Regions from separate parts of the Homo sapiens genome. Here all the other regions are reported to be linked to region 1. Evidence: microRNA targets listed by miRTarBase, many of them from high-throughput screens and not tested one by one. Region 1 holds a microRNA gene; each other region holds the end of a gene's coding sequence. Distances are between the middles of the regions.
The links. The annotated mature microRNA hsa-miR-6134 reads UGAGGUGGUAGGAUGUAGA and lies in region 1 at 1,994-2,012, opposite strand. An mRNA with a match to its seed (bases 2 to 7 or 8) in the 3' UTR can be bound and repressed. Matches are read on the target gene's strand: a 7mer-m8 pairs with bases 2 to 8, a 7mer-A1 pairs with bases 2 to 7 and ends in A, and an 8mer does both.

Region 1 (4,119 bases):
AAAACCATCAGATCTTGAGACTTATTCACTACCACAAGAACAGTATGGGGGAAACCGCTGCCATGATTCAATTATCTCCCACCAGGTCCCTCCCACAAAAATGGGAATTATGACAGATACAATTCAAGATGAGATTTGGGCGGGGACAAAGCTAAATTATATCAGTATCTTTTGAACATATCATCTTATATTGTTTTCTTAGTGGTTGCTCTAGGTGTTACAATGCATGTAAGTAAGCTATCACTTCTATTAATGGTTTATCACTTTGAGTGAAGTGTAGAAATCTTACTACCATTTAGGTCCTTTTACCTTTCCTAAATTTTAAATATAATGATCTTAATTATTTACTCTAGATACATTGAGCATCACATCTAATGATGTCATAATTTTTGCTTCAAACATCAAATATAGTGTATGAAACTCATGAGAAGACTAGTCTTCAATATATTACCCCATTCTTACTCATTCTGATGCTTTTCTTTCCTTTTTGAAGTTCCAAGCCTTCATTTGTTATCATTTCCTTTCTGTTTAGAGAACTTCCTTTAGCCTTTCATTAAGGGTGCTTTTACTTGCAACAAAGTATCATAAGTTTCCTTCTTGTAGGTTTCCTTCACCTGAGAATGTCTTTATTTCCCGTTTATTCCTGAAGAATATTTTTGCTGGATGCAGAATTCTGGGTTGATATTTACTTCCTTTCAGTACTTGAAAAATCTTGCACCACGCCTTCTAAATTGCATAGTTTTAGGGTGGGAAATTTACTGCAATTCAAGGTGGTATTCCTCTATATGCAATATGTTGTTTCTGTCTGTCTGCTTTTAATTCTTTTCTTTTTGTTTAGTTCTCACAAGTTTAATTTTGTTGTGTCTTTGCATACATTTTTTTAGGTTTATCCTACTTGGAGTTTCCTCAGCTTTTTGAATCTATAGGATATGGCTTTCACTAAATTTGGAGAGTTTTCAACCATTATTTCTTTAAATGTTTTTGTTCTTCTCAGACTCTGATGATACAAATGTTAGATCTTTGTTATTGTCCTAAAAGTTCCCTGATACTTTGTTTATTTTCTGCCCGGTCTCTTCTCTCCCCTGAGTTGTTATTGTCCTAAAGTTCCCTGATACTTTGTTCATTTTCTGCCAGGTCTCTTTTCTCCCCTGAGTTGAGATAAATTTCAAACTGAGTGCATTCCAATAATCTGTACTTAAGTTCACTGATTCTATCTTCTTGTGATCTCCAATGTACTCTTGAGCCCACCTATTGAATTTATTTTAATTACTACACTTTTCAGTTCTATGATTTCCATTTTGTTCTTTTTTATAATTTCTATTTCTTTGCTGAGGTTTTCTATTTTTTTCCTTTGTTTCAAGAGTATATGTAATTGCTTGTTGACACATTTTGATGATGGCTGCTTTAAAAACCTTATCAGATAATGCGAAGATCTGATTCACCTTGCTTTCAACCACCTTGGTGTTTTATCAGTTCGTTGGTTCTTTTTATTCATGCTGTGATTTTTCTGATTGTTCGTATAGCAAGTGATTTTTCCATTATAGTCTAGACATTTTAGATATTACATTATGAGACTATGGATCCTATTTCATCTCCTCTTTTTAGCAGACAATTGCCTGTTCAAGTGTAGCATGAAGGCAGTTTGCCATGCATATTCTGTTTCCAACTGAACCCCACCAACACTATCATGACAAAAGTGGGGCAGTGACTCACATTGCCTCACTACAGATAAGTGGGGTAGAGGTTTAGCCACACCTTTGGCCCTGTTAACACCATCTTGATGAAAGTAGGACACTGAGTCACATTGCTTCATTGCCTCTGAGTAGGAGTATAAGCTCGACTTCCCACTGGACACTCTGACACCAGCAAGGGGTAAGGAGAGGACTGATGCATACCTCTTTGTTACTACAGATGGGGGCAGAAGCTCACTGTCTGCTAAACCCCATTAATACCAGGGAAGCACAGGGTTTGAGAAAGCAGAGTGTCAACCAGCTCTACATCCTACCACCTCATTCAGCTTCATTTATGCAGGTGGAAATAGAGGGTCAGTTCCCTACTGAGCCCTACTGACATCAAGGCCCAGTGGGGAGCTGAGGTTCAACTCCCACCTGGCATCAATGCCTGGCATCAATGAAATGCTTGGTGACCCAAATTTGTACTGCCTTCCTAAGTCTCACTAATCCTGGGTACAGAGGAGGCTCAGCTGCCTGCTGGACCCCACGGCCACTACACTGGCTGGGGAATCAGAATACTGCCTGAGACAGCCAGGGAGAGGCAAAAAGACCAGGTCCCTGCTCAGTCCTGCTAACACTATCTTGGCAGAGGAATTGGAGCACTTCCTGGTTCTGCTGAATGGAAGCAGAATTTCAACTGCCCCATTAACTTGCTGACAAAAGTGCTGTCTGCTTCCACCAGGCAGCAGTGGGAAGATTAGCTCCACATTTAGAAAATTAGGTCCGTGCTCAGCCCCACCCTAGGAAAAGGAAGGAAGAAATTCGAGTCCCACCACCTGCTTTCATAGAGTAGGGTAGTGGTGTGAAAATCAACTCCCCACTAAGTTTCACTGAAATCCCAAAAGCAGGGGCATTTTTTTCTATTGATGTTTGGCTGAGGGTGTATGTATTGCCAAAAAGGTTTTTTTTATTGTTGGGACACCCCATTTCTGGTCAATTAGCTAGGGAAGAAAGTACTTTTTTTGGAGTTTTCTTTTATCCATGGCTATTGGCAGTTCCGGGTTAGATGCTTCTGAAGAGCCCTGTCTGGGATATATGGGCTATATTAAGGAAACGCAGATAACACATCACCGTTTTATTCTTCAAGTCCCAAGGTCCCTAGGTAGTCCACCCCTTTCAGCATTTTCCTATGCTTAGTGCTATATCCAAAGATCTAGGAAAATATGTATCATATGAAATTCAAGTGATATGTCAACTTGCAACATTTGAATTAATTTATATTCTAGACAACCTTTTTAGGTCCTCTTAAAATTTAAGTTGACAGTGAAGTGCCCATTCGAGTGGGTAAATTTTGATATAAAAGGTCAGTGCTACTCATATTTTCCCTGGAAAATCCCCTAAGAATATCAAAGTATTTCTTGTTTTCCCCCATATCTTCCAAACATTTTAATGCTTCTAAGAGCTGATTATGGTAGAATTTTTTTAAGTATACAATCGTCTAAAAATAGCTCTGATTCTATGAATTAGGAAAGAAAAAGGAAAGAGAACCATTAACAGTCCAATCAGATAGTTAAATAAATAAATTTTTGCTAGAAAGAACTGAGAAAGTGGCATCATGTAACTAACTTCAAAATAATACATGGATAAAAATATATATTACTAAAACTATAAATGTTTACAAAAACGTCCGTTAAAAATAAAAACAAGGCCAGCGCGGTGGCTCACGCCTGTAATCCCAACACTTTGGGAGCCCAAGGCGGGCGAATCACTAGGTCGGGAGTTCGAGACCAGCCTGGCCAACATGGTGAAAACCCGCCTCTACTAAAAATACGAAAAATTAGCTGGGCATGGTGGCACATGCCTGTAATCCCAGCTACTCGGGAGGCTGAGGCAGGAGAATCGCTTGAACCCGGGAGGCAGAGGTTGCAGTGAGCCGAGATCACACCACTGCACTCCAGCCCCGGCGACAGAGTGAGACTATGTCTCAAAAATAAATAAATAAATATAAATTAATTAATTAACTAATTAATTAAATAAAATCAAAACAGACAATCCCGGCCAGGCGCAGTGGCTCATGCCTGTAACCTCAGCACTCTGGGAGGCCGTGGTGGGCAGATCACTTGAGATCAGAAGTTCAAGACCAGCCTGGGCAACAAGGTGAAACCCCATCTCAACTAAAAATACAAAAATTAGCAGGGCATGGTGGCGGGTGCCTGTCATACCAGCTACTTGGGAGGCTGAGGCAGGAGAATTGCTTGAACCCAGGAGGCAGAGGTTGCAGTTGAGCCCAGATCATGCCACTGCACTCCAGCCTGGGCTACAGAGTGAGACTCCGTCTTAAAAAAAAAAAAAAAAAAAAAAGACAATCACTACACATTACAGTTGGAAGTTTCAAAACCATTCCCACAGATAAATGGAAGCATCTTGTAAATCCACAGAAATAATA
Region 2 (4,119 bases), 37 Mb from region 1:
AAGGATTTAAAGCTCACAAAACATACGATAACTGGGCCAGGCCTCATGGGCTCCCACCTGTAATCCCAGCACTTTGGGAGGCCGAGGCAGGCAGATCACTTGAGGCCAGGAGTTCAAGACCAGCCTGGCCAACATGGTGAAACCCCATCTCTACTAAAAATACAAAAATTAGCCAGGCATGATGGTGTGTGTCTGTAGTCCCACCTCCTACGGAGGCTGAGGCAGGAGGAGAATCGCTTAAAGGTTGCAATGAGGCAGGATTGCACCACTCCACTCCAGAGTGGGCAACAGAGACTCCATAAAAAGAGTAAGAGAGAGAGAGAGACAGAGAGAGAGAGAGAAAGAAAGGAAGGAAGGAAGGAAGGAAGGAAGGAAGGAAGGAAGGAAGGAAGGAAGGAAGGAAGGAAGGAAGGAAGGGAGAGGAAGGAGGGAAGGAGGGAAGGAGGGAAGGAAGGAAGGAAGGAAGGAAGGAAGGAAGGAAGGAAGGAAGGAAGGAAGGAAGGAAGGAAGGAAATATATGATAACTTACTTTTCCTTGCAAGTGTTGGCTTACCAGGAAGGAAAGTGGTAAGTGAGAGTGCCAGGTCCAGGACAGTTTAGAAGGTTTGTCTGGCCTCAGTTTCCTCATCTGCAAAATGAGGATAACCATATCTAGGCTACAAAATGTTTTATACATGTTTTATAAACTATAAAGTACTACCCAATAGCTTTTGTACATACACACACTCTCCATCCTCACTTCACACTCCATTCCCCACTGCCTTCTGCAACAGGGCCCAAGGTAGTTTCCCTGACCTTTATTGGCACTACAATATGTGAGGGTAGTAGGAGGCAGGAAAAGCCTGAAGACCTTCCTGACAAAGAGGCAGGACAGGGCCTGAGCATCCCAAGAGAAATCAAGAGATACAAATAAGTACCTCTTAGGTCCCAATGCCAGGCAAGTCCAGGAGCATCACATGGTCAATGCAGGATCCACACCCACAGTAGAAAAGTTGGCCTGGAACTACCGAAAGGGCACAGACTATTAAGTTAGACAGTCCTGTGACCTTGGGAAGTTATTATACTTTTTTGAGCCCATTCTCTCCTATATAAAATGGGGATAGTCATATCACCCCTCTCCATAGAACTGAGGTATAGATGAAATGAGACCAAAGATAAGAAGGTAATATATAAATAGAAACTGCAGTGAAATATCTTACAGCTACCCACTCATACCACAAAGAACGATTGAGTCACTGTGAAGTCTTCCTAAATTTTATTGGCACTGAAATAGAACATGGATTGAGCATAAACCCCTCCAAAAACAATTTTTAAAAAACCCAAAAAGTACACAAAAAACCCCTGAATACAAAATCTAACCTTTTCCCCCAGCCTCCCTAAGGGTAAGTTACTGACTTTAAGGCAGCTATTAATAGATTGCCCCACAATTCCAGGTTTCAATTTAGCCAATATAGGACATATCACCAAGTGAGCTAATTCACAGCAATGCACACAAGACTCCTCAAGGTCAGGCACAGAGTGGGGGGTGGTGGCCAGGGGGAATTGAGGGAGGCTCTAAGCTAGGGGCACTGCATGGTGGGACAGGATGGCCCCTTGAGGACTGAACCCTGGGGAGAAGACAAACAGTAATAATAAAAACAAATAACAAGTACTTTAAGAATGGATTGTATGACCTATAGTGACAGATGACATCACTAATACTGAAAGCTTCTTATATTAATAATTTTGGCAAAATGTCATTTTGTAATATAGTATATGCTTTCCAGGTGTGGGGGTGGTAAAGTAATGAGGCCAAAATCATCCTGCCCCAAGACTAATATCTTCTAATGGTGCATTAGCAAGGAAGGCAGAAATCAATATTTAGATATCAGTAGAGTACATAATACTGTAGAAAGAAGAAGAGCACACATGAGACAGAGAAGGAGGTGGATGCTCCTGGGTTGAGAGCAAGGGGTGGGGGTGTGGAAGGGACTAGGCCAGAATCCCCAGCAGCTCTCTGGTTTACAGCTCCAAGGGACAGAACAGCTGGTGTCAAGACCTGGGTTAGAGGTTTGTCAAACAGAGGCAGGGCCCAGTCACCTCTTTGGAGGGGAGTGATGAGAAGGGGATTTTGGTCACCTGAGAGGGTTGAGTAAACTTGGATCAGGGCACAGGCTTCTCTCACCATACTCAGCTTTTTGCACTCACTCCCTAGTTGAGCCTACTGGCATCAAGCTCTAGATGCCAAGGCTGGGATGGCTGTGGAGCAGGAGCTATGGCCCAAGTAGCTCTGAGAGGGGAAGAGACCTAAAACCCCTAGCAGGGAAAATACTGACGCTAGGTGTGAACATATCCTCTCTTTTCACAAGAGTCCTGATGGGGCTGGCTGAGCTTTTGGGTACTCATCCCTACTGTTATAGCTGGAGAGGATTTGGGTATTGAAGCAGGGAGGGGCAGATCCCACGAAGTGACTGCAGATCTGGAATAATAAGTAAGGGGTAGATCTGCCCATAGAGCTCACTTTAGACCGGCCTATACTCCTACAAGGAATTGGGGTAGGATCTTCTACTCAGCCTTGCCACAATAGAATGGCCAATGCCCTTCTAGTATGTTTGGTGAAGGTCTTGAAGGCACCATTTCCCCCATCCACCCTGGGGAGAAATTGAGTCCCTAAAGTCAACGACAAGGCTTATTGAGGCTGAGTTTGCAACAGATCCGATCTGGGAGGTAGAAACAAAAATGACTGAACATCTTTTTATCCCCCAATCGTTACAAAGCCTAAATAACTCTAAACGGGATGGGAGGGCAAATTTTAGGTCAGTTGACATCCTGGAGAAGATATCCTAGGTCCTGTCTCATTCCCTAGACCGCATAACACTCCAACCGTGTAAATCTCAGGACCCTGAAGAAGACAGTGGTAGGGGAGAGGAGGGGAGCTAGCTTCCAACCTACTCCACACTTGACTCCCATAGGACAACAGTAAGTGTAAGGGCATTTGCAAAATCAAGTGGAAAGTACCTCTAGGCTGGAGAAGTAGGATATTCTAGCCATACAGATTCAATGGAACAGAGAAGAGAAAGGAGGTTCCATTGGCACCATAGTGAGCCATTCATTTGCCCAGGGAAGTGGGTGGGGGCTAAGGGGCTAGGTTTGGTCCCATGGCTACATTAAATGCTTGGCATGACTCCAGGGCTGCTCTAGTTAGTGGCTCCAGCACAGTATGAGTTAGGTGAGTTAGGTGTAGGAGTGTGGGGACAAGGAAAAAGGGAGGAGGGGTCCCTAGAGGCTGGGTGCCCATTACATAGACTCAAATTCGTCAATGCGCTGCTTGGTGTTGCCCTGCCGGATCTGGCGCAGGGTCTTGTATTTGTCTCGGCCCAGTCGCATGTTCTCAGCATGGATCATGTCATTGGCAGTCTTCTTGGACTCATCTCTGGCATTGGCCAGCTCCGAAGTGAGGGCCTGTGAGGATGTATGGGAACACAGAGGTCAATGGCTTTCTCTCATTTTACCTCCTGTTATTTGACCAGACTTCCCTTCTCTTCTGTTTCCTTCTTTCTTCCTCACCCTTTCTCTCTATATATAAATATTGAGAGTCATTTCCAACTCTGTTAGAACTGCAGTGGGGCAAGAATATTAAAAAAAAATAAATAAACTTAGGGGACCAGTTGATAATGGGTATCCTTTAAGAGTAGAACAACATACAAAAGATTCAGGTGGGAATTTTGTCAGCTAGATATTTTCTTAATGTAAGAGGTGAATGGAGTGAGTGGGAGGTGGGGCAGAGAGAAAATCTCAAAAAGGGAAGAGATAGCCCAAGGTCTGATTAATAAGTGAGAGGTGCCTATCCTTAAAGCTGTCACTTAAGAACGGCTTGGGCTCCCATACAACACTGGGACAGGATCTTATACCTATCCCCCATGATGGTCTAGGGAATGCCATGGGCTACTAAATCAATGCATATAGTTTCCTTGCCCCTTGGCCCTACTTGTATACCTTCAGGTGCTTCTGCACACGCTCATTCTTCTCTGCCTCAGTGGTACGTTCCTCCTCACTGCGGTCCTTGGCCATAGCATCAGCCCGTAGGTCAGCACTAGCCTCTGCCCCATTCTCATCCTGCTCATCCTGCTCATTCTCAGC
Region 3 (4,119 bases), not on the chromosome of region 1:
GCCCATCCGGGCCATGTCCCAGGACAGGGTCCTGTCCCCGGATCGGGGCCTGCCAGATGAGTTCAGCATGCCCTACGACCGCATCCTGTCCGACGAGCAGCTGCTCTCCACGGAGCGCCTGCACTCCCAGGACCCGCTGCTGTCCCCGGAGCGGACGGCCTTTCCCGAGCAGTCGCTGTCCAGGGCCATCTCGCACACGGACGTCTTTGTGTCCACACCCGTGCTGGACCGCTACCGCATGAGCAAGATGCACTCTCATCCCAGTGCCTCCAATAACTCATACGCCACCCTGGGCCAGAGCCAGACGGCAGCCAAGCGTCATGCCTTTGCCTCACGCAGACACAACACGGTGGAGCAGCTGCACTACATCCCGGGCCACCACACCTGCTACACAGCCAGCAAGACCGAAGTGACCGTGTGACCGGCGGGGCAGGGCCGGGGCTGCTGGGCGTGGCAGAGCAGAGCGGGGGCCGGGAGGGGCCAGGAGCAGAGCTTCTAGCCTTGCCACTCTCCCTTCCCTTGTCCCCTCTGTAGGAAGTGGGGGTGGGCCACCTTTGCCCAAAAAGCCATACCCCCGGGGACACAGCCCCGATGGCCTGGTCCAATACACTTAGACCCAGGACCAAGAGCAATCGCTCTTGCTCCTCCAGAAGAATCAGTGGGGAGTGAGGAGGGGGCTAGGCCCCATTCTCACCCCCGACCACCTTCACCAACTCCCTTTCCGTCCCGCGCCTCCTTCTCCCCATCCGGGGGACTCAGCTGCAGGTTCTGTCAGCAGAGAGACCCTTGCTTGACTGTGGTCTGAAGCTGCCTGGGTTTGAAGGGGCCAGCGGGTCCAATCAGTGGGCTGACCGGATAGGCTACTCGGTCTCATTCATTCATCTAGAACCGCATCACAGAAATCTCCTAGTGCCTAAAAACTGCCTGCTCGCTCTCTCAGAGCCAGGGAGCTGCTGTGTCCATAAGCACAATAATGATTCTTTTCTTGCCTGCTGGAACTCTCTGGTCCCCACTGAGTGACCCTTCCTTTGCTGACCCCTGAGGGCCCAACCCTGGCCCTGTGCCCCTCCCCTCAACTCCAGGACCAGGAGGGGTTCCCTTCCTTCAGCTGCCTCCCCATTGGTGGGAACTCCACCCCCTTCCAGCTGACTGCCCGCCCATAAGGACCCTGGGCCTGTCCTTTCAGCGGGCTGTGCTCCTTCCCTGGCCCTGAGGATTTCACCCTTGAGTTTTCTGGGGTTTTGGCTGTAGCCTTCGCAGAGGGGAGTAGCAATGGGGTGCTGGCCCTCCCAGACACCCGATCATCTCCGCACTCCCTCCAGGCCTCTAGACCTGACCATGACTGCCACTCAGGCTGCCTTCTCCACCCCTGCTCTGCTCCCAGGAGGCACCTGCGGTGGCCAGAGAGCCAGGGTGGGGAGGGCCACTGTGATGTGCGGGGTCTCGGGCTCAACATTCGCATCCTGCAGGGCTCCACCTGTTCCCACATGCACCTCCGGCAGGACCTAGACAGAAGTTTCTAGAGAGCAGCTTTTCAGCCCCCAGACAAGGAGGATGAGAGGTGGTTGTCCTGCATCCTCTCCGCTCATCCTTCCTTCCCCATCTCTGTCTACCTGCTCAGTTCAGAGATCACTCCTACTGCCTGTGTCCCCTTCCCCCACATCCTCCCTGCAACTTTATTCCTCCTAGCTGATCCTTCAGATCCGTGCCTCCTCTGGATCAAAGGGACAAAGACCTATTAGCAAAAGCAAACAAAGGTCCTCCAGGCGACTGGCCTAGGGGCTAACTGGGCAGGTCCCCACAGCATCATCCCTTTGTGCAGGCACTGGGGTACCTGGTAGACCATGGTCCTCAGCTCTGTTGGGGGACCGCCACTGCCCGCCCACCTCAGCCTCTTCCCCGCCTCCAGCCTGGGGGTTGGCATGGTGTGACGGCCTCCTGGGGAGGTGACAGTGAATTCAGCAGCATCCGCTCCCCCAAGACCAGAGAGCCTGGTGGGGGAAAGAAGGGGTTCCCTCATTCTCAGGGCCAGGGCACCCGCTGGGTTGGGGCTGGGGGAATCAACTCCAGGCTATTGGGTGAAGGTGTGATCCTAAAAACAGTCAGATCCAACAGCAGTGCCCTTATAAATGGGGTTTTACCTGCCCTCAGTTCTGCACTCATGGCCCTTTAAAAAGGCGAGTGTAGAAGGAGAATTTATTGGTGTCAGCCCTGGAGATTTTTAATCTAACCAAGTCCACAAACCACAGAGAAAGCAATGGACTGTGTCCTTTCACTGATTTCAAGAGTTCCAAAGCTCTCATCTCCTTCTCCCCTCTGCAGGGTGTGCCTCCCAACAGGAACAGGAAACCATCACCCTGGATCTTAGGGGGATGGAGGCTGGGGGTTGTGAAAGCCACTGTCAGACCCCACACTGGGGATGCATTCCTGGAGTCGTGCGGCTGGAAGGCCAGGGACTACCCTCTCTGCTTTCCTCCCAACAGACACATAAACCTTCTTAAGGGCTGGTCCCCAGGGGTTTATAAGAGTTTGTTCCAGAAGGTGAGGCTAAGAGGGTTGGAAAGGAAGAAGTGAGTCTGAATAGAGCAGGTGGCTCCCAGCTGGGCCCCTGAGCCCAGCACCTTTGAATCGTCTAATCTGTGGCCATCCCTTGGAAGGCAGGATGCTGGTGGTGAGGGGAAAGGACCTGAGTGGCTGAGAATGCCCTTCCCAGGTGTCTACATGCAGGTATACACCAAACCAGAAAGCTGATCCCATCTCCAGTGTCAAAGCTTCTCAGCACCAAGTTCTCCAGCCCCCAGGGTGACACTTTTCCCCAGGGGTCCTCCCCAAGCCCTGTCTCTGACAGGGTTTCTGTCTCTCTCAGGGGTTGTTGATGAGTTGATTCCAAGACATTTCTCATCCCAGCCTTACCACTGTCTGGCTGAAAGGCTCTGATGTCAGTTGGGTTGGAAAATTCTACTGCAATGCTTACTTCTTTTCAAGGATTTCTTCTGCTTCACCTTTGGGTCTAGAAGCAAGGAATGAAGGGAGGGAGAGAGGGAGGGAGGGAGGGGAGGAGGGAAGAAAAAAGAAGTAGAGATAGGTCTACAGACTTGCTCCAATTCAGTCCCACATTTCAAAATCCAGAAAACTATGTCATAGCTGGGACAGAGAGGTATCCCATTTATTCAGCTGTCCCATCCATCTTCATGGAACAAGCAAAGCCACATCAATAGGCAAGTTCACGTAGCAGATAAAAGAGGCTTCTGGGGCTGGAACCTAGATGCCATGATTTCTAGCCCAACCAGGCTGGTGGCCTCTACCATACATAGAAGTACCATCCACCCTTACAGTAAAAGCCTCCCTCCTGCTCACAAAGGAAGCCTAAAGCCCAAGATTTCCCTCTCCTTGTTTTATTCATTTTTGCACATCTCTGTTGCTCTAACAGAAATGAACTGGAATCTGCACAGGTTCTCTCCTGCCCTGAAAGTTCTGCCTGGTTTCCTTGGCCTCTGATGGCATTGAAGCTTTCACAATCCCTCCTGCATCTCCACCTTCCCTGTCTTGCTCCAGGCTCCTGGCTCCATGCCTTCCTGTGTCAAAAAGGCTTTGCCAAGAATTACTTCACCTCCTAACCAGGCTTCTGCCCTCAGGGCTCCCCCAGTGTCTTGGGAGTGTCTTGGGCCACACGACTGCCTCTTAGAAAGTTCCAACCTTGCCCCCAATTCAAATTTCTCCTCCCCTCTTTCCACTCTCCCTCCCAGAAACTCCTGATTTCCAGAAAACCTCAGATTTCCAGGCCAGGTCACTCATTCCTTCCTCTCATCTCCCTCTTCCTCCATCTACCTTCCTCCATTCACCTTCCTCCATTCCTAATTTCTTTTCCCTGGTCTTGCTATAATCTCCAGCTCTAAAAATCAGAGCTCTCAATGAAAACAATGGAAGAATAAGACATTCTTTCGGTCTTCTGTTTGCCTCACTGGTGTATCCTTCATCTCCTGCCCCTGTGAGTTGATACCCCAGTGCACGGAGCCAAGGGCTTTTCCCCTCTGAGCTCTGGGAGGGAAGGGAATGGAGCTCTGGGTTTGAGATGTCATGGCCTGTGATAGTCAGTTTGGTTCCTGCCACTAGCAAGTC
Region 4 (4,119 bases), not on the chromosome of region 1:
GAGGGAAGAATTTGCTGTGAGTCAGGGGCACAACAGGAACTTGAATCTGAGTCTCCAGACTTCTAGAAGAGTGACCTTAGATAAAGTACACCTGAAATTCTTATTGGCCAATGAATTATCTACCAGTGACTCTGCCCATCACCCCATTTTTTTTATAGTATTTTGGTCTGTTGCTCAGGTTGGAGTGCAGTGGCGTGATCATAGCTCACTGCAGCCTCAAACTCCCAGGCTCCAGTGACTCTCCTCACTCAGCCTCCTGAGTAGCTGGGACTATAGGTGTGCACCATCACACCTGGCTAATTTTTTGATTTTTTGTAGAGATGAAGTCTCACTGTGTTTCCCAGGCTGCACCCCAATTTTTAGCCACCTTTCCACATTTATATAAAGGTGAAATATGGATTTGACATACAAAATTCAAACATTACAGAAACTTAATGAAAATGACTCCTGTTATCCTACCTCAGCCCCTCGCAGACAACCACCATTAAGAGTTTGGTCTATATTTTTCCCTCTCTCTTTCCCTCCCACTTAACATTGTAAATTTTTTAAAAATTTGGGACAGGGTCCACTCCCATTGCCCAGGCTGGAGTACAGTGGCGCAAACACGGCTCACTGCAGCCTCAACCTCCTGGGCTCAAACAATCCTCCTGCCTCAGCCTCCTGAGTAGCTGGGACTACAGGTGTGAGTGACCACGCCTGGCTAATTTTTAAATTTTTTTGCAGAGACACGGTCTTGCCATGTTGCCCAGACTGGTCTTGAACTCCTGGGCTCAAGCAATCCTCCCACCTCTGCCTCCCAAAGTGCTGGGATTACAGGCGTGAGCCACCTAATGCACCCAGCAACATTGTACATTTTTAATAAAAACATTACACTTGTTCATACTGGTTTTTCTGGGTATGTGAATGTGTTCATTCTGTTTTACAACTTATCATTTTTTCACTTTTGGACAACTTTCTATGGTAGCATATGGAGACTTCATTCATTCATTTTAATAACCATATTAGTTTATAATTTGAGGCAAGGTCTCCTCTGTCACCCAGGCTGAGTGCAGTGGCATGGTTACGGTTCGCTGCAGCCTTGACCTCCCAGGCTCTAGCAATTCTCTCACCTCAGCCTCCTGATAGCTGGGACTACAGGCATGCACTGCCATGGCCAGCTAATATTTTTTTGTAGAGGTGGGGTCCCACTATGTTGCATGGTGGCGTGTGCCTGCAGTCCTAGTTACTCAGGAGGCTAAGGATGCAGTAAGCTACGATCGAGCCACTCTTCTTCAGCCTGGGCAACAGAGTGTGACCCTGTCTCAAAACAAAAAGCAAAAACAAAAGGTATGAGCATTTTGTTTTAAAAGATATTGCCAAATCACCCTCCAAACACTTGTGCCAGTTTATCGTACCACAGTTTATGTGAATGCCCATTTCCTCACATCCCTGCCAACCAGGGGTATTATCATTAAAAAAATATCTTTCGGCCGGGAATAGTGGCTCACGCCTGTAATCCCAGCACTTTGGGAGGCCGAGGCGGGCGGATCACTGGGTCAGGAGATTGAGACCATCCTGGCTAACATGATGAAACCCCGCCTCTACTAAAAATACAAAAAAAAAAAAATTAGCTGAGCGTGGTGGTGGGCGCCTGTAGTCCCAGCTACTCGGGAGGCTGAGGCAGAATGGCGTGAACTTGGGAGGCAGAGCTTGCAGTGAGCCGAGACTGTGCCACTGCACTCCAGCCTGGGTGACAGAGCTAGACTCCATCACAAAAACAAAACAAACAAACAAAAAACTTTCCAACTTCAATGAGGCTGGACATCTTTTTGTATCCTTATTACGCATCTATAGTCTTCCGTGAACTATCTATTCATCTCCTTTGCCTATTTGTTATTGAGGTGTACTTTTGGCTAGTGGATTACTCAGTGAATTTTTTTTTTTTTTGAGACAGAGTCTCTCTCTGCTGCCCAGGCTAGAATGCAGTGGCGTTATCTCCGCTCACAGCAACCTCTGCCTCCCGGATTCAAGCGATTCTCCTGCCTCAGCCTCCAGAGTAGCTGGGATTACAGGCACCTGCCATCATGCCCGACTAATTTTTATATTTTTGTAGAGACGGGGTTTCACCATGTTGGCCAGGCTGGTCTCAAACTCCTGACCTCAGGTGATCCACCCGCCTCAGCCTCCCAAAGTGCTGGGATTACAGGCATGAGCCACTGTGCCCGGTCATGCCAGGCTAATTTTTGTATTTTTATTTTTTTATTTTTATTATTATTATTATTATTGAGACGGAGTCTTGCTCTGTCGCCCAGGCTAGAGTGCACAGGCTGGAGTGCAGTGGCACGATCTCTGCTCACTGCAAGCTCCGCCTCCCGGGTTCACACCATTCTCCTGCCTCAGCCTCCAGAGTAGCTGGGACTACAAGCGCCCGCCACCACGCCCGGCTAATTTTTTGTATTTTTAGTAGAGACGGGGTTTCACCGTATTAGCGAGGTTGGTCTCGATCTCCTGACCTCGTGATCCGCCCGCCTTGGCCTCCCAAAGTGCTGGGATTACAAGCGTGAGCCACCGCGCCCAGCCTAATTTTTGTATTTTTAGTAGAGATGGGTTTTCACCATGTTGGCCAGGCTGGTCTCAAACTCTTGACCTCAGGTGATCCACCTACGTTGGCCTCCCAAAGTGCTGGGATGACAGGCGTGAGCTACCGTGCCCGGTCACTGAGTTCTTATTGGGCAATAATGATTGGCTTAACCAAAGGCCTGGCAGCCTTTGTACCAAACTGCTAACACTGTTTACCTCTAGGGAGGGAGACTATGGAAAATGAGGAGGATACTTTCATTTTTATTTTATATCGTGAGGTATTGTTTGGATTGTTACAATGAACTTGCATTTCTTTTGTAATGAAGAAAATAATACAGAGGAAATAACAACAACTAAACCTTTGGCCTGGATTATCATCGGCTGGAAATTCATGTTGGATGCAAGTTTTTATTGATAACAAGTTATTTTTTGGTTTATATGCAAAAAATGTTCATTGAATGCCTCCTATTTGGCTGGCACTGCCTAGGCACTTTCACAGGTATTTCATCCTAATCCTCACAACAGCCCTATGAGGTAATCATTGGTCCCAGTTTACAGAAGCCTTGGGTGGGAGATTATTGCTTGATATACTTCTATTTGCCACACATTTTTGTTGGCAAGACGTTCGTATCGGCTGGTGATTCACTGGTCAAGAGCTCTCATTGGCCAGGAGTTCCTATTTGTTGCTGTAAGATTCAAATAATCAAAATACTAGAATTTTTCCCCCACAAGAATGATGGGACCAATGGCATAAGAGTAAAGGAAGGAGAGTCAGTGGGTCTCTCCCTTTGAAGCACCATTTGAGTTTGCATTGGTCAGCCCCACACAGGTGGGCGGGATGAGGTGGTGGAGGAGGAGACGCGGTGGTTATAAGTCTTCTCGCTTCAGTAGGATGAGCTTCCTCACGAGCGCTGTGATCTGGGGTCTGACCTCCTCCACTGACACAGTTGGGTCCCAAGCCCCTACCACCTTTCCATCTGGGGCTACTAGGTACTTCCAGAAGTTCCAGGTGGGCTCCTTCCCAGAAGTCTCTAGAGAAAAAGGAAGGAGAGCAAAGCGTGCTACCCTGCGTACCCTCTCCTGGGACTTCACTCTCAGTGTCCATCTTTCCCTGGTGGCAGCTAATCCTGATGCCCAGTCCACACCCCAGACCACTCCAACCAGAATCTCTGAGGGTGAGGCTCAGGCATCAGCATTTTTCAAAAGCCCCCTGGGAGATTCCAAAGTGGGGCCGAGGTTGAGAACGACTGCTGTAGGATTCTGTGACGTGCTTGATAAAGTGGTATCAAATCCTCCTTTATTAATGACTTCGAACTACTGAATAGTCTACACCCTATTCTCTAGTTCAGTTTTAATGGTTTCCAAATGTTAGTCCATGGACTGGTTTCATCAGAATCACTGGGGGTCAGGGGAGTGCTTAAAATAAAGATTCTTGGGCCCTGCTTCAGTAGGTCTCAGCCTTGTGCATTTTTAAGAGCTCCCCAGGTGCTTCTAAAAGCAAGGCCGGGTTTGATCTATAACTGTGAGAACTGGGAAGGAACTAATAAAAGAACACAGAGA
Region 5 (4,119 bases), not on the chromosome of region 1:
AGTTGAAGGACAAAAACAGAAGTTAGAAGCTTGGAAAAACAGAATTTCTACAGATTGTTATGACATGTTTCATAATTTAACAACAATTATCAATGAAGTAGGTAATGATCTTGATATTGCACATCTGCGAAAAGTTATCAGTGAACATCTTACAAATTTGTTAGAATGTTTTGAATTTTATTTTCCATCAAAAGAAGATCCACGCATAGGAAATTTGTGGATCCAAAATCCATTTCTTTCATCAAAAGATAACTTAAATTTAACTGTAACTCTACAGGATAAGTTGTTGAAGCTGGCTACCGACGAAGGATTGAAAATCAGTTTTGAAAATACAGCATCACTTCCTTCATTTTGGATAAAAGCTAAAAATGACTATCCTGAGCTTGCTGAGATTGCTTTAAAATTGCTGCTTCTTTTCCCCTCAACATACCTCTGTGAGACCGGATTCTCTACTTTAAGTGTTATTAAAACAAAACATAGAAACAGTTTAAATATACATTATCCCCTGAGGGTAGCATTGTCATCAATCCAACCTAGATTAGACAAATTAACAAGCAAGAAGCAAGCTCACTTATCACATTAAAAGCTTTAAATATTGATATGTAAGGTATTGGTTCAAAGTATGCATATAAGCATTGAGTGTGAGGAATTTGCTATTTCACTTTAAACTTTCTGTCTAGTTACAGTTATGGAAGTATGAGAAGTTATGAGTGAAACAGCAATTTTCTATATAAATTGCCTATATGTATATTTTCAATTAAGAATGTGTACAGTTTTTATAATTCTATTTTTCCTCATATTTGTCGTATTTATTAAAATATAATTTTAAATCTGTTGATTCTAATATTAAAACATTTGATCTTATATTTTGTGTCTTCTTCTTGTATTTCATTAGCATGTTAAGATTGTAGGACAACTTCAGGATGGGAGATGGTTTCTTTGAAATAGACAAGGTCAGTGAAAGGAAGTGAATTCAAAGGGGTAGGCTTAGAATTCAAATGCAGGGGACAGGTCAGTAGGGTATGAAGTTTGTTAAACTGATCCAGAGTGGTTAGGTTGGAAGTTGATGTTGTTTGTTTTGTAGGTGCATGTTTAGACAAAGATGGAAGGGAACACTTATTTTGTAATGGTGTTATGGCCTTGGATTCATATTGATAAATTTATTTACTTATTTATTTTTGAGGCAGGGTCTTGCTCTGTTGCCCAGGCTGGAGTGCATTGGTGCAATCTCTGCTCACTGCAACCTGTACCTCCTGGGTTCAAGTGATTCTCTTGCCTCAGTCTTCCGAGTAACTGAGATTACAGGCACCCACCACCATGCCTGGCTAATTTTTGTATTTATAGTAGAGATGGGGTTTCACCATGTTGGCCAGGCTCATCTTGAACTCCTGACATCAGATGACCCTCCCACCTCGGCCTCTCAAAGTGCTGGGATTACAGGCGTGACCTGCTGCGCCCGGCCGATAAATTCTGATTTCATAAGGATGGGCGATTGGGCCATACTGACAAGTTTATGTTAGGTGGTTTCTAGATTTTGCTAGAACTGATTGCCTTTAAGGTGCTCTGGGACAAAGTCAGAAATTATTGGCACCTCAATTAGATTTAACAACCTCTATTTTGTTTGGAGATGATTCAGAAAAATGCCACAAATATCTGCTCTTGTGTCTGTGAACTCATTTAGAATAATCGAAAGCAAATTAGTCCGATAAAACAGGTTCTTTAGCATCAAAACATGACAGAATCCATGAAGAAAATATCTTTTCCTAGACAGGGTAGCAATTTACAGTAAGTGCTTCGTTTCAAATAAATGTGATATTCAAAGTTAAGGAAAGGAAGGCTATTTAGTGATTCAGAATGTTACTAATAATTTAACCTTTTGGTAATGGAAGTTTCAAGGATCCTCCAAACCTTTGAAAGTAGAGGAAAGGTTCATATTTAGTCCTGAAACCTTAATTGGATTATGTTTTATTGTGTGTTTGTTTTAATCTTACAGCTTTTCAAAAACAAAAAACCTTATCATGGTGGATAGATTTAGAAGACAGTGGTTTAATTTCTCCCACTGACAAATTATATGCCCTCTTTCTTATCTGACCATATTCTAGAACTAAGGGATTTTAAAATGTTTTACAGTTTGTTTTATTGATTGAATAAAGTATTGTGTTTCCCATTTTTAATTTCAAAAGGCAATGTGGTGATTTTATATTTATTTCTATAAAAACTTAAAGTAGTCTGGAAGAAATTAAGAGGGAATTAAGAGTACATATTAAAAGAGAACTAAATTCCCTTACTTTCTCTCTAAGAAATATAAAGTATTAGATGTTTGAGATTGGTACAAAGCCTTCACTTTCTCTCTAAGAAATATAAAGTATTGGATGTCTGAGATTGGTACAAAGCCTTCTCATATACTTGAACAACTATTTTTATTTTTTTCTGCAAATGATTCAGTGCCAGGAGGCTAACTTGCTTTACCTTTTTTTTAAGACATAGGAATATTTGTCTTTCCTCCCTTACCTCCCTGTTTTATTGTCTCACTGTAAATTTTTTTAGGGCAACAGCTTTATTGAGATTTTTATTGAGATCATGAAATCTTACTGCCTATTCTTAACGTGAATTTGATGACTAGTGATTCTGTAGATAACCTGATTTTCTCTTCCTATTTTCTGCTTGTTTTGCAGCAAGTTCACATGTCTATAAACGTGGTATATGAATACAATGCAAAGGTATCTTTATTTGTGTATACTTACAACTACTGTATGCAGTACTGTTTATTTCCATCTATCATGTATATATGTGCTGGTTTTAAAAAATTGTATTTATGTATAACAGGAGGTTGTGTTGGGCTTTTCCTATTACTCAAAGAACAGCAACTAGGGAGGAGTCAAAGATGGGTCAAGGGAACGCTAAGTACTTCACTTTTTAAAGAAATCTGACAATGACTAGAATCAGAAAACCCCACCACCCACTGCCTCCATGCACACACCCAGACCTAACTTGAAGGATGATTAAGAAGTCGTAGAACTAGCTCCCAAAATTGTGCTTTCTGCCAAAGGAATCACTGGTAGTGATTGAAGATGCCTTCAGGAAGGAAAGACTTGTATTTTATTTCCAGATTGGGTGTTAATTTAGGCAGCAAACTTGTTCATCTGCTTTCTGCCTACTTTATCAGGAAAATAAAAGGGAAGGTGGGGTGGGGAGGGGAGGCGATTAGACTTGCAGTAGTTCAGTCTGTAGTCTCACAATTTGGGGTGGCAAAGATACGCAAGTTTCCTGTGGGTCAGGTGACACCAAGGAATGTAATTAATTCTGACCTCTCGGCTAGTGTCACATTCAGGAAAACTGTCCTTCAGCCTGGAGAACTCTCCAACAAAGCCTGTGGGCATTTATAGCTATGGACAGATGAAGGAGGTAAAAGCCATTATCTATCTATTTATATATTTGTGGGTAAGGCCCCCACAAATATCTTGGAGAATTCTCACATGGTCCCCATGAAAGAATGAGAAAGCTTGAATTCTGGGGCTTAGAGGGCAAATTACAAATTTACCCTTGGTACCCGTATGTGTGCGCGCGTGCACATATTTTGAAGTCTTTGGTCTAGCCCTGGTTTGAGGAAGCAGGATACAAGAGGGAATTGCAGCTAAGGGGCCTGATGGCCTTTGCAACCTTATACCCAGATTCCTCTATATTACCCCAGCCACCTGGATGAAAGACCACTTCTCCTTCAGCTCTGCTGGTGAGAAACTTGAGAAAGAACCAAAGTGAGGGGAAACCCAGGGTGGGGCTTTTATGGCAGAGAAAGGAGGGTAGAGATTACTTGAGTGATCTCAGTGGTGCAGTCAAACTCTGGGCTTTTGGAGTTTGGCTGTTCTGGTTTGGCTGGCTGCTTAGATATTTCAAAGACAAAAGAATCTTGAGTCAGGTTCTAAAAGGATCCCTGTTAGAAAGTGTCCCTTCTCTGATATATGGCTGTGTACTTTCTGCAGTGAATCTCTCCTGAATAACTCCCAGAATGTCTTTGCCAGTGTTCACCAAGATAGAAAGATTGTGAAAGTTTCAAACATTATACAATTAGAAATTATTATGATAAAGAATAAGACATTTATTTACTGGTTCAAAGAACAT

Region 2: miRTarBase lists MSN as a target of hsa-miR-6134. Seed matches in the 3' UTR shown: 7mer-m8 at 1,923-1,929.
Region 3: miRTarBase lists SHISA6 as a target of hsa-miR-6134. Seed matches in the 3' UTR shown: 8mer at 1,883-1,890.
Region 4: miRTarBase lists GPX7 as a target of hsa-miR-6134. Seed matches in the 3' UTR shown: 8mer at 3,399-3,406.
Region 5: the mRNA of SCAND3 is a reported target of hsa-miR-6134. Seed matches in the 3' UTR shown: 7mer-m8 at 1,408-1,414 and 7mer-A1 at 1,589-1,595.

Annotation. Positions count from the first base shown.
Region 1 is chrX:28,493,582-28,497,700 of GRCh38, forward strand. It overlaps MIR6134 (microRNA 6134), which reads right to left and starts at 2,082; the gene lies at 1,974-2,082.
Region 2 is chrX:65,739,051-65,743,169 of GRCh38, reverse strand. MSN (moesin) reads right to left here. Exons shown (of 13, transcript NM_002444.3): 12 at 3,976-4,119; 13 at 1,239-3,441. The coding sequence ends at 3,277. Among named protein-coding and RNA genes, the nearest start is that of MSN, 73 kb to the right of the region's middle.
Region 3 is chr17:11,557,884-11,562,002 of GRCh38, forward strand. SHISA6 (shisa family member 6) reads left to right here. Exons shown (of 6, transcript NM_207386.4): 6 at 1-4,119. The coding sequence ends at 421. Among named protein-coding and RNA genes, the nearest start is that of DNAH9, 39 kb to the right of the region's middle.
Region 4 is chr1:52,607,733-52,611,851 of GRCh38, reverse strand. It overlaps GPX7 (glutathione peroxidase 7), which reads right to left. Exons shown (of 3, transcript NM_015696.5): 3 at 2,801-3,590. The coding sequence ends at 3,427. Among named protein-coding and RNA genes, the nearest start is that of GPX7, 7.4 kb to the right of the region's middle.
Region 5 is chr6:28,568,375-28,572,493 of GRCh38, reverse strand. It overlaps SCAND3 (SCAN domain containing 3), which reads left to right. Exons shown (of 4, transcript NM_052923.2): 4 at 1-1,959. The coding sequence ends at 583. Among named protein-coding and RNA genes, the nearest start is that of SCAND3, 17 kb to the left of the region's middle.